Homo sapiens: one gene and its partners. The protein of the gene in region 3 purifies or fractionates together with the protein of the main gene of each other region. This does not show direct contact. Each region holds a gene or a part of one and is shown on either strand. Other genes may lie near its edges. The genes, in order: NCAPD2, FNBP1 and GOLGA3.

Region 1 (3,651 bases), about 130 Mb from region 3:
CTCAAAATGTGGTCCTCAGATCAGCAGTGTTAATATCAGGATCTCATGATCTGGGAGCTTATTAGAAATGCAGGATGTCAAGGCCCAGGATGTCAAAGCTGCTGAATCAGGAAATCTGTATTTTAAGAAGATTCCCCCAGGCAATTTGGATGCAATTATAAGCTTGAGAAGCACTGATCTCTAGAGCCTCGTAGATCATGGCAAAAACTTGAACTTCAGTGTGAATGAACTTGAAAGCCATTGGGTTTTGAGCATGGGAGTGACATGGTCTGACATTTTAAAAGATTCACTGGCGACTGTGTTGAGCAGAGACTATAAGAGGCAAGGAGAGAAGCAGGGATACTAGTTAAGTGGCTAATACAGTAATACCAAGTAGATTGGACTGGAGGGATAGCAGGGGAAGTGGTGATAAAACGACTCAGGATATATTTTCAAAGTAGAGCTTTTACAGGAATGCTGATGGATTGGATTGGATTATAGGGTTAGTAAAGGAATCTGAGATGAGAATGATTACAAGGCTTTTTTTTTTTTTTTTTGACAGTCTTGCTCTGTTGGCTCTGTCACCCAGGTTGGCGTGCAGTGGCGTGATCTTGGCTCGCTGCAACCTCTGCCTCCCAGGTTCAAGCAATTCTCATGCCTCAGCCACCTGAGTATCTAGGATTACAGGTGTGCACCACCACGCCTGGCTAATTTTTTTTTTTTTTTTTTTTTTTTTTTTTTTTAGGCAGAGTCTCGCTCTCTCGCCCAGGCTGGAGTGCAGTGGCACCATCTCGGTTCACTGCAAGCTCCGCCTCCCAGGGTCACGACACCTGGCTAATTTTTGTATTTTTAGTAGAGATGCGGTTTTGCCGTGTTGTCCAGTCTGGTCTTGAACTTCTGGCCTCAAGTGATCTGCCTGCCTCGGCCTCCCAAAATGTTGGGATTACAGGCGTGGGCCACCACACCCGGCCTTACAAGGCTTTTTGACTTGAGCAACTAGAAGAATGAAGTTGCCATTTACTGAGATGGGGTAGCATATGGGAGGGAGAGGTTTAGATTGTTGGTTATGTGAGTGCAGAGTTCAAGGGAGAGGTTGTCAGCTAAAGATACACATTTAGGATTTAATACTCAGCGTGTAGACAGCACTTAAAGCCATGAGATTGCAGTGAGTGTAGATGGAGAAGAGCAGCAGTTTGAAGACCAAGACCTGAGACAGTCCAGCATTTAGAGGCTAGGAGGATGAAGAAGAACCAGTAGAAGAAATTAAGAAGCAGTCATTGGGGCAGAAAGCGAATGAAGGAGCTAAATGGACGCTAAATAAAGAGAGTGTTTCAAAAACAAAAGAGAGGTCAACTGCAGATTAACTACTGGATTTATTGATGTCATAGTCACTGGTAACCTTGACAAAGCTGTTTCAGGAGATGGTGGGGGCAAAAGCCTGCTAGGAATAGGTTTTTAAGAAAATGGAATGACAGAGATTAGAGATGATGAATTTACATAATGTATTTCTTTTAAGATGGGCAGCATTATGTGTGTCTATATTGAGTAGGAATGATCAGAGAGGGAAAAGCTGATGCTGCAGAAGGAAGAGGGAACAGTTGTTGGAGCAGTGCCTTTAGTAGGTAAGAGAGTACGTGATCTGGTACACGGGGAGGAGATGGCTTTATCAGAACATGGACAGTTTATCCACAGTAGCAAAAAAAAAAGGCAGAGTGTATGTATGGGCATAGATGCAACTAGTGCAGGTAAATATAGAGCTTGGGGCAGTTGAAAGTTCTCTTCTGTCTGCTTCTGTTTCCTCAATAGGAAGGGAAAGCCTTTAACTGAGAGTGAGTTTGGGAAGAAGGTCATGGTGTTATGAGCAGAGGATAGGTGTGAAATAATTGCCTAGAAGAAAACGAATAGACTTGGGAGTACGAATGCCCACTTCAGGTTAGTAGTCATGAGTTTAACGTAAGACTAGTCAGCTTGTTTCTGTGTTTTTCTCAGGCCATTTTTATTTGTGTGGTCACATGAATGGAGTAACCAGAAAGTTGGTTTAACCTAGATTTGCCAGGGGAGTATGTGTTGTTGTTGTTGTTAATTAGTGGAATAAGTTACAAGTATCACAGTATCTAACAATAGGGGAATAGTAAATTAAGATAGATATAAGGCCGAGTGTGGTGGCACTGCCTGTAGTCCCAGCTACTCAGAAGGCTGGGGCAGGAGGATCGCTTGAACCCAGAAGTTTGAGGCTGCAGTAAGCTATGATCCTGCACTGCACTTCGGCCTGCGCAACACAACAAACCCTGTCTCAAAAAAAATTGTTTACAAAGGTGTTTTTGTTGTTGTTGTTGTTGTTGCTTTTTTTTTGAGACGGAGTCTCACTCTGTCACCCAGGCTGGAATACAGTGGCACTATCTCGGCTCACTGCAACCTCCTCAGTTCAAGCGATTCTCCTGCCTCAGCCTCCTGAGCAGCTGGGATTACAGGCGCATGCCACCACACCTGGCTTTTTTTTTTTTTTTTTTTTTGTATTTTTATTAGAGACGGGGTTTCACCATGTTGGTCAGGCTGGTCTCGAACTCCTGACCTGATGATCCACCTGCCTCAGCCTACAAAGTGTTGGGATTACAGGCGTGAGCCACCACGTCTGGCCTACAAAGGTTTCTAATACACTTACTGTAATGCTAAATTTTAAAAAGCATGACAGAGAAGTGAATATGTGATACAAGCTCAACAATGGAAATACGATGTATAGAAAATGGACTGAGAAAAATATGCTGTTATAACTGAATGCCTGAGACTGGATATTTATAATGAAAGAAATTTATTGGCTCACATTTTTTTCTGGAGACTGGGAAGTCCCAAATCAATGCACCAGTAACTGGCAAGGGCCTTCTTGCTGCATTGTCACAGGGCAGAAGGCAGAAGGGCACAAGTGAACCCACTCCCCAGAGCCCTTTTTATAATAGTATGAATATATCGGTGAGGGGTTGGGCACGGTGGCTCACACCTGTAATCCCAGCACTTTGGGAGGCCGAGGCGGGCAGATCACAAGGTCAGGAGTTCGAGACCAGCCTGGCCAATATGGTGAAACCCCGTCTCTACTAAAAATACAAAAAATTAGCCGGGTGTGGTGACGCGTGCCTGTAATCCCAGCTACTCAGGAGGCTGAGGCGGGAGAATCACTTGAACCTGGGAGCCGGAGGTTGTAGTGAGCCGAGATCGTGCCACTGCACTTCAGCCTGGGTGACAGAGCGAGACTCCATCTATTTTTTTTTTTTTTTTAAAAAAGATGGTGAAACCCCGTCTCTACTAAAAAATAGAAAAATTAGCTAGGTGTGGTGGCAGGCACCTGTAATCCCAGCTACTCGGGAGGCTGAGGCACTGAATTGCTTGAACCCAGGAGGCAGAGGTTGCAGTGAGCTAACATCATGCCACTGCACTCCAGCCTGGGCGACAGAGCGAGACTCCGTCTCAAAAATATGTATATATATTTGTGAGGGTGGAGCCCTCATAACCTAAACACCTCCCATTAGACTCCACCTTCCAACACTGTCATGTTGGGGATTATATTTCCAACACATGAATTATGAGGGGCACATTCAAACCATACAGCGTGCTAAGTGTTGTTCTGACTGGTTTGCATGGACTATCTCATTCAGTTTTGACATATATATATACATATAT
Region 2 (3,402 bases), on a different chromosome or scaffold from region 3:
AAGAAAATCAGCTGACCCTTCAACCACAAGGATCTGTTTAAATGAGCAGTAGGAAGTTTCCAGCTTTACCCAGTAAACAAGTGAATGGGAAACCTAAGGTATTAAAATCTGACCTTTCTATCCGATGACAAACTCATTTCCAGTCTGTGAACTCCTGGACAAAGCAAACTAACCACTGAAAAACTCGAAAATAGGGCAAGACGACATTAACCTTGTGAAAGTCTGCTTTGAAAAAAGGCATTCTGTCAAGCTGTGTATTTTTTTCTTGATTATTCAAATTTATTTCGTTATTCAAATTTAATTCAGAAAATAGCTCAGTTGGTTTCAGGGGGAATGGGGTGGGAGGGGTTTGGGCACATAAATTTATGATGATAATTTTAAATGTACGATCATTAAGTTGTATGCCTCAGTACTATAACAGGTGAATCTCTGTAATATTGACTAAACAGTTAAAAGATATTTTGTAAATTTCAGGTCCATCGCATCAATGCATGAAATATTAGAAAACCAAATTCCAAAGAATCAGGAATTTCCATTTCCACCCAAAGTATACTTTATTATCTTCTAGCAGTTGTCTGTTAATATAAAAGCAGCAAAATCTCAGCTACTTATATAATTTTCTCCTTTTATTTGAAAGTTACACTTAGAGATTAATAATATGTACAGAGAAGCTTTTCCTGCCTACTCTGTTTATAACTCTGTCCAACTTGCCCACAAACACTGCCCTCCTTCAACCCATCTGATGTGGGCAAAGCCACTGTTTTCTTAGGCCCATAACTCAGTGCAGCTGTTTTATTTTTATAATGCCGGTCAACCTTTTTGTGTGTGTGTGTGTGTGTGTGTGTGTGTGTGTGTGTGTGTGTGTGTGTGTCTACGATGTGCTTATTTAATAATTGCCAAAATATTTAGACTAGAGTAACTTCCGGTGGGTCAATTGGATTGTGACTTTCTTTTGTGGTTTTTTGGTTCTTCGATTGCTCTCTGTTAAATATTTTCATAATTCCCCCCACAGAATACGTGTGTATATACTGCAACTTAAAAACTAAAAGCAGTACTCGAATGAGTTGTTTTAATGTTGTACTTTTATCTGTTTGTTTTATGGGTTCTCCTGCTGCCTAATGACCTTTCTGTTTTTATAACTGCCGGAAAGCCGCGAAGCCTCTCGCATGGGGAGCTAGGTCCCCGCTGCGGCTCCGCACTTGAGTTTATTATAAACTCTGGGGTTCTGAGTAAGTTTTGTTTGAATACAGCAACATGATTGTCTCTTTCTATTCTTATCCTAAAAGACTCTGTCTGGCATCTTTTAGTTGTACCCTCGTATCTGCTTCTCTAATAAATGTTATATTTTTTCTCAGTATTGTGTATTTTAAGTGACTTTTCATGTTTCCAAGAAAATTATTCTGTGTAATATGAATATTTAACTCTTTCATCTCCAGTAATAGGGGATTTTCTAGCCCAATGCTTTTTTAAAAATTCTGCCTCCCACCCCTACCTCCTCCTTTAAATGATGGCACCTCCCCTGTTTCTGATCTTGCGTGCACTCAGGGCCTGAGAAGTCTGTGTTTCTTTTGTTTCTTTTCTCTCTCCTTGAGATGAAGAGCTTTTCACGGTTTATTGCGGAATGAATACAGAACAACAGGTTTTCCTTTTCACCAAAGATTTTACATTGTACTGCTGAAGAGCCAAGAGTTTCCTTCTGAGAGAATTGGACCTTCATGTTCCTTGTACCATTCTAGGAAATTGATGCATTTCTTTTCTTTTCTTTTTTTTCTGGAGTTGAATTCTCACTCTGTTGCCCAAGCTGAAGTGCAGTGGTGTGATCCTGGCTCGCTGCAGCCTCGACCTCCCTGGGCTCAAGCCATCCTTCCAACTCATCTTCCCGAATAGCCGGGACTACAGGCGCATGCCAACATGCTGGTTAATTTTTTTTTAATTTTTTGTAGAGATGAGGTCTGGCTATGTTGTGGCCCAGGCTGGTCTTGAACTCCTGAGCTCATGCATCCTCCCTCTTCAGCCTCTCAAAGTGCTGGGATTACAGGTATGAGCCACTGCACCCAACCTCCGTTTCCTTTTTTTTTTTTTTAAGACGGAGTCTTGCTCTGTTGTCCAGGCTGGAGTGCAGTGGCCCGATCTCAGCTCACTGCAACCTCCGCCTCCTGGGTTGAAGCGATTCTTCTGCCTCAGCCTCCCAAGTAGCTGGGATTACAGGCACCTGCCACCACGCCAGGCTAATTGTTGTATTTTTAATAGAGATGGGTTTTCACCATGTTAGCCAGGCTGGTCTTGAACTCCTGACCTCGTGATCTGCCTGCCTCAGGCTCCCAAAGTGCTGGGATTACAGGCATGAGCCACGGCGCCCAGCCCCGGCCTCCGTTTCTTACTTTCTCTCAAAACTAAACTTATGAGAAAGACGAGTTGGGGCGGATGGCCTCATCAGTCTCCTGTTTGGGCTTCTCTTAACTCTGAAGGAAAGACCAGCTAAAGGCTAGAGAGAAAACCGTGAAAGTTCCTCATCTCAGACCCGCCCTGTGGTAACCGATTGCTCTAAGACGCCCCCTCCCATCCCTCCCCTCCCACTACCCTCCCCTCCCAGGGCGGTGCAGTTTGTAGCCAAGAGCAAAATGCCCGCCTGGAACCCGCGCCTTCCTCTCTAACAGAGAGTTTCTCTTTCTGTTTCTCTTTGTGTTGTAGATTCCTAGAGGGGAGTGCCTGCGAGCCTCGGGTGAGCCTTCCTGGAGGAGCCTCCGTCTGCTTGTTCCCACAGGCCTCCAGCGCCCTGCCCTGTGGACAGCCCACCCCTCCGCAGCCCCATCCCTGCGGGGCGGTCTCTCTCTCTCTCCAGCATGCTCCCTGCGGCCCTGCCCTCCCGCCCAGCCCGGGCCACCTCGTGGGGGACAAGTCTCGCCAGCGCCCACCCCCATGGCTCGGGTCAGTCCTCATCGCTCCCCCTCCCCACCCCGCGCAGGCCACTGAGACGGTGGGACACACGCCCCTACCTGCTCCTTCCTGGGCCCTCAGTCCACCCGGGCTCGTCCTGGCAGCCCTTCCGCGCTTCACACAGTGCCTTTTGTGAAAGTGTCATCACGGGTCCCCTGAGGAGACAAGGCAGGTCCAGCGCACATCAGGCGGACTGAGCACTCGATGTCATCCGTGTCGATGTCATCCGTGTGTCCCAGACTGTCTGCTGTAGAAAACACTTCCTCCTCTCCTGAGTCTGTGAAGTCCTCAGTGGTCCTTTTTGGATTCTAGGCTTGCACCTCATACTAAACATTGACCCTTTCACTATGCCCTCAACCTGGGAGCATCTGGCAGGCAGGGGGGCAGGTACACACACACCCACAGGCACACCCACCAGTACACACGCGTGCGCATACACACATTTTGGTTTGACGCCCTGTTTTC
Region 3 (3,651 bases):
ATACCTGACAGGAGAGAGAGACAAAATGTATTATGAAACTTGTCAGATTTCAAGTATCAATTACAAAATTAGCATTTGGTTCCCAATTTGCATACGTACAAGAAACAAATACAAACTTTTTCATTCAGCAAATAATCCTGGAGCACCCACAACATCCTAGGTTTTGAGGCTAAGATGCTGACCCAGCCACACTGGGCCCTTTCCTGAAGGAGCTTAATGTCTGTATCGGTGCCAACTAAAGAACATTCTGCTGGGACAGCGCAGCTCTGAATCTGTGGAGTAGGTGTCACACAGGGCAACTGAGCTTTAAATTTTATTTAAAATTAATTTGGGCCAGGCGCGGTGGCTCACCCCTGTAATCCCAGCACTTTGGGAGGCCGAGGCAGGCAGATCACCTGAGGTCAGGAGTTCAAGACCAGCCTGGCCAACATGGTGAAACCCCCACCTCTACTAAAAATACAAAAAATAGCCGGGTGTGGTGGTGAACACCTGTAATCCCAGCTACTCGGGAGGCTGAGGCAGGAGAGTCACTTGAAACCGGGAGGCGGAGGTTGCAGTGAGCTGAGATCGCACCACTGCACTGCAGCCTGGGTGACAGAGGGAGACCCCATCTCAAAAACAATTTAAAAATTACAATACCAGACTCACAGGCCCCCCTCTCAGCTAGTGAGTGACTCTGCCCAAGGCCACGGCTCCTGCCGGCAGCCCCACCCCTTCAGGTTGGACAACTCAGATCCAGAGAAACAAAACTTTAAAAAGCAGGTGCCATGGGATGTGGTAACTCTATACAGGGTGTACAAGGACACCAGAAAGGCAGCTGCCTTGGAGTGGGGGCACAGAAAGGGCATCTCACGGCAGGGCCCGTTCCCGTCTTTACCTCTAGCTGGGTTAGCTCTCTCAGCCTGCCCTGCCGGGCTACATTCAGGGGAGCAAAACTTTGCCCAACATTTGGCAAGTGATTATCCACCCTGAAATGTGCTGGTGATATTATTAACTCATTTCCTTATCAACAGGTAAGACACTAGCATGAGCTTCCATTCATTCTGCAGAAATGTTGGCATTTATTCCTTTAAAATCAGTTTCATATTAACCTACATTATGTTCTGTGTTTAACATTTTTCATGAGAAACATTACACAACCTTCGCCTCTAGCTTACAAATCCCACACAGAAGGTATAGACAAGAAGCCCACATGGGGCCGGGTGCGGTGGCTCATGCTTGTAATCCCAGCACTTTGGGAGGCCAAGGCGGGCGGATCACCTGCGGTCAGGAGTTTGAGACCAGCCTGGCCAACATGGTGAAACCCCATCTCTACTAAAAATACAAAAAACTAGCCAGGCGTGGTGGCAGGCGCCTGTAATCCCAGCTACTTGGGAGCCTGAGGCAGGAGAATCACTTGAACCTGGGAGGCGGAGGTTGCACTGAACCAAGACCACGCCATTGCACTCCAGCCTGGGCAACAAGAGTGGAAACTCCGTCTAAAAAAAAAAAAGGGCTGCGTGTGATGGCTCATGCCTGTAATCCCATAACTTTGGGGGGTCAAGGTGGGTGGATCACTTGAGGTCAGAATTTCAAGACCAGCCTGGCCAACAAGGTGAAACCTCGTCTCTACTAAAAATACAAAAATTAGCCAGGCATGGCAGCGCGTGCCTGTAATCCCAGCTACTCAGGAGGCTAAGGCAGGAACATCGCTTGAACCTGGGAGACAGAGGTTGCGTGAGCCAAAATTGTGCCACTGCACTCCAGCCTGGGAGACAAGCACAAAACTCCATCTCAAAAAACAAAAAACAACAAAAAAAAGAGAAGCCCACGTGGCTGGTCCTCGAGAGCATGTGTGTCACTGACCCCGCAGCAGGACGTGCCTGTCTTTCTAGGGGTTTTTACTCTACCTGCCATCTAGACTGGTCACCCGTAAAAGAGGAAACCTATGGGTGGTGGGTGTAACCCAGTCCACTGACACAGTCAATGACTCACTGAAGGGCGTGCAGACCTGTGAGTATCTGCTCATAACTATAATAATCCACCATTCCTCTCTGCCACCTTGCATCCTACAGGCCAGAGACAGTTATGAGTTCATAACAGTGTTGTTCAGAATATTAAAAGGTTACGTATGCTATTAGTGTAAAACTAGCATTAAGGGTTTGTAACCAGAAAGCACTGTGAATAGAAATGTGTCCTAACATTAGTAACTATAAATCTCGCATAGCTAATCAAGAAACTACTGTAAACAAAGGATCCTAGATGTCTTGACTCAGGGTGCCTGGCACATAAAAATATTTAAAGATTAAAGCAATGTCTGAAGCACAGAAGTGAAGGAAGTTACCAAGGCTGGTCAAAAGCTAATCCTGTGTGCAACGAATTCTCAATCTCATGTTTGCGTCTATGATCATCTAGTAACATCTCTCATCCCTGGATTTTCCGGGTGGGTGGGTGATAAATGGGCCTTAGAGCCTAGGCAGGGATCTGAACTACACACCTGTCCTTACACACAGCACAGAACCCTCTGAAAATCACTTTCCAGGAAAAACACTGCGATCTCCACCAAGCCTGCCCCTCAGCTACAATCCCAGACACACTCCAAGAGAACTGGGGGTCAGCCGGCCACGCCCACCTGGGAATGGAGAAGACACCCACAAAACAAGGGGAGGAGCATCAGCAAAATGATGGCTGCTTATCACAGGCTTGCCCCTTTGACAGATGAATTACAAACTGGCACGGAGGACTACACGCGGTGGAATGTGGACTCGACTGCGCCACTGAATACTGGTACCCTGTACATCTGGTCCTCTTGAAAATTTCCTAGCAAAAGAAAACTTGCGTTTTGCTTTGTGATGTCTTTGCTTCTGCCTTGCGGGGGTGGGGTGATTATATGGAACCGACCGTGTGTGCCTACGCGTGCAGACCCTCCTGGCCCCTCAGGTAAAGGAACCGACGGTGTGTGCCTGCGCGTGCAGACCCTCCTGGCCCCGCAGGTAAAGTGTCTCGTCTACCCCCTCTGCCATCACTGTACCTCACGTGGCCTCCACCACAGCACGTCATGTCTGCCATTGCGTGTGTGCCCATTACATGGCGAGATCCTTGAAGACAGAGACTCATTCCCCGTCTGCCTCCCACCACCTTGAACACTCCCAACTCCTAAAGTGCCAACACAGGTTTAATTTGCCGAATTAAATCTTCAGTTCTGCTGATTCTGCTGAGTACATTCCTCTGCTACAAAGCTAATGGTTCCAAAACAAAATGATTAAGTATTTGAATCCTGGAGCATCAACACTGCCTTTTAAAATACAGCAAAGTCTAAACTAGTCCAGCTGAAACATCTGTGAGCTTCAGTTCCAATGAGGGAGTCCAGGGAGTTAGAAACTGGAAGAGCACCTTTTTTCAGTGGCCGGGAAGATGGCGGACATTCAGACTGAGCGTGCCTACCAAAAGCAGCCGACCATCTTTCAAAACAAGAAGAGGGTCCTGCTGGGAGAAACTGGCAAGGAGAAGCTCCTGCGGTACTACAAGAACATTGGTCTGGGCTTCAAGACACCCAAAGAGGCTACTGAGGGCACCTACATTGACAAGAAATGCCCCTTCACTGGTGATGTCTCCATTCGAGGGCGGATCCTCTCTGGCGTGGTGACCAAGATGAAGACGCAGAGGACCACT

The links.
Region 1: the proteins of GOLGA3 (region 3) and NCAPD2 fractionate together in Homo sapiens (co-fractionation; one large-scale study listed by BioGRID). This does not show direct contact.
Region 2: the proteins of GOLGA3 (region 3) and FNBP1 fractionate together in Homo sapiens (co-fractionation; one large-scale study listed by BioGRID). This does not show direct contact.

What each region holds. Positions count from the first base shown.
Region 1 is NC_000012.12:6,500,538-6,504,188, forward strand, and holds part of NCAPD2 (condensin complex subunit 1), read left to right. Parts: intron 1-3,651. UniProt on the Homo sapiens protein: Regulatory subunit of the condensin complex, a complex required for conversion of interphase chromatin into mitotic-like condense chromosomes.
Region 2 is NC_000009.12:129,889,836-129,893,237, reverse strand, and holds part of FNBP1 (formin-binding protein 1), read left to right. Parts: intron 1-2,691; coding exon 2,692-2,699; 3' UTR 2,700-3,402. UniProt on the Homo sapiens protein: May act as a link between RND2 signaling and regulation of the actin cytoskeleton. Required to coordinate membrane tubulation with reorganization of the actin cytoskeleton during the late stage of clathrin-mediated endocytosis.
Region 3 is NC_000012.12:132,822,308-132,825,958, forward strand, and holds part of GOLGA3 (golgin subfamily A member 3), read right to left. Parts: exon of another isoform or gene 3,374-3,651; intron 2,800-3,373; exon of another isoform or gene 2,612-2,799; intron 5-2,611; 5' UTR 1-4. UniProt on the Homo sapiens protein: Golgi auto-antigen; probably involved in maintaining Golgi structure.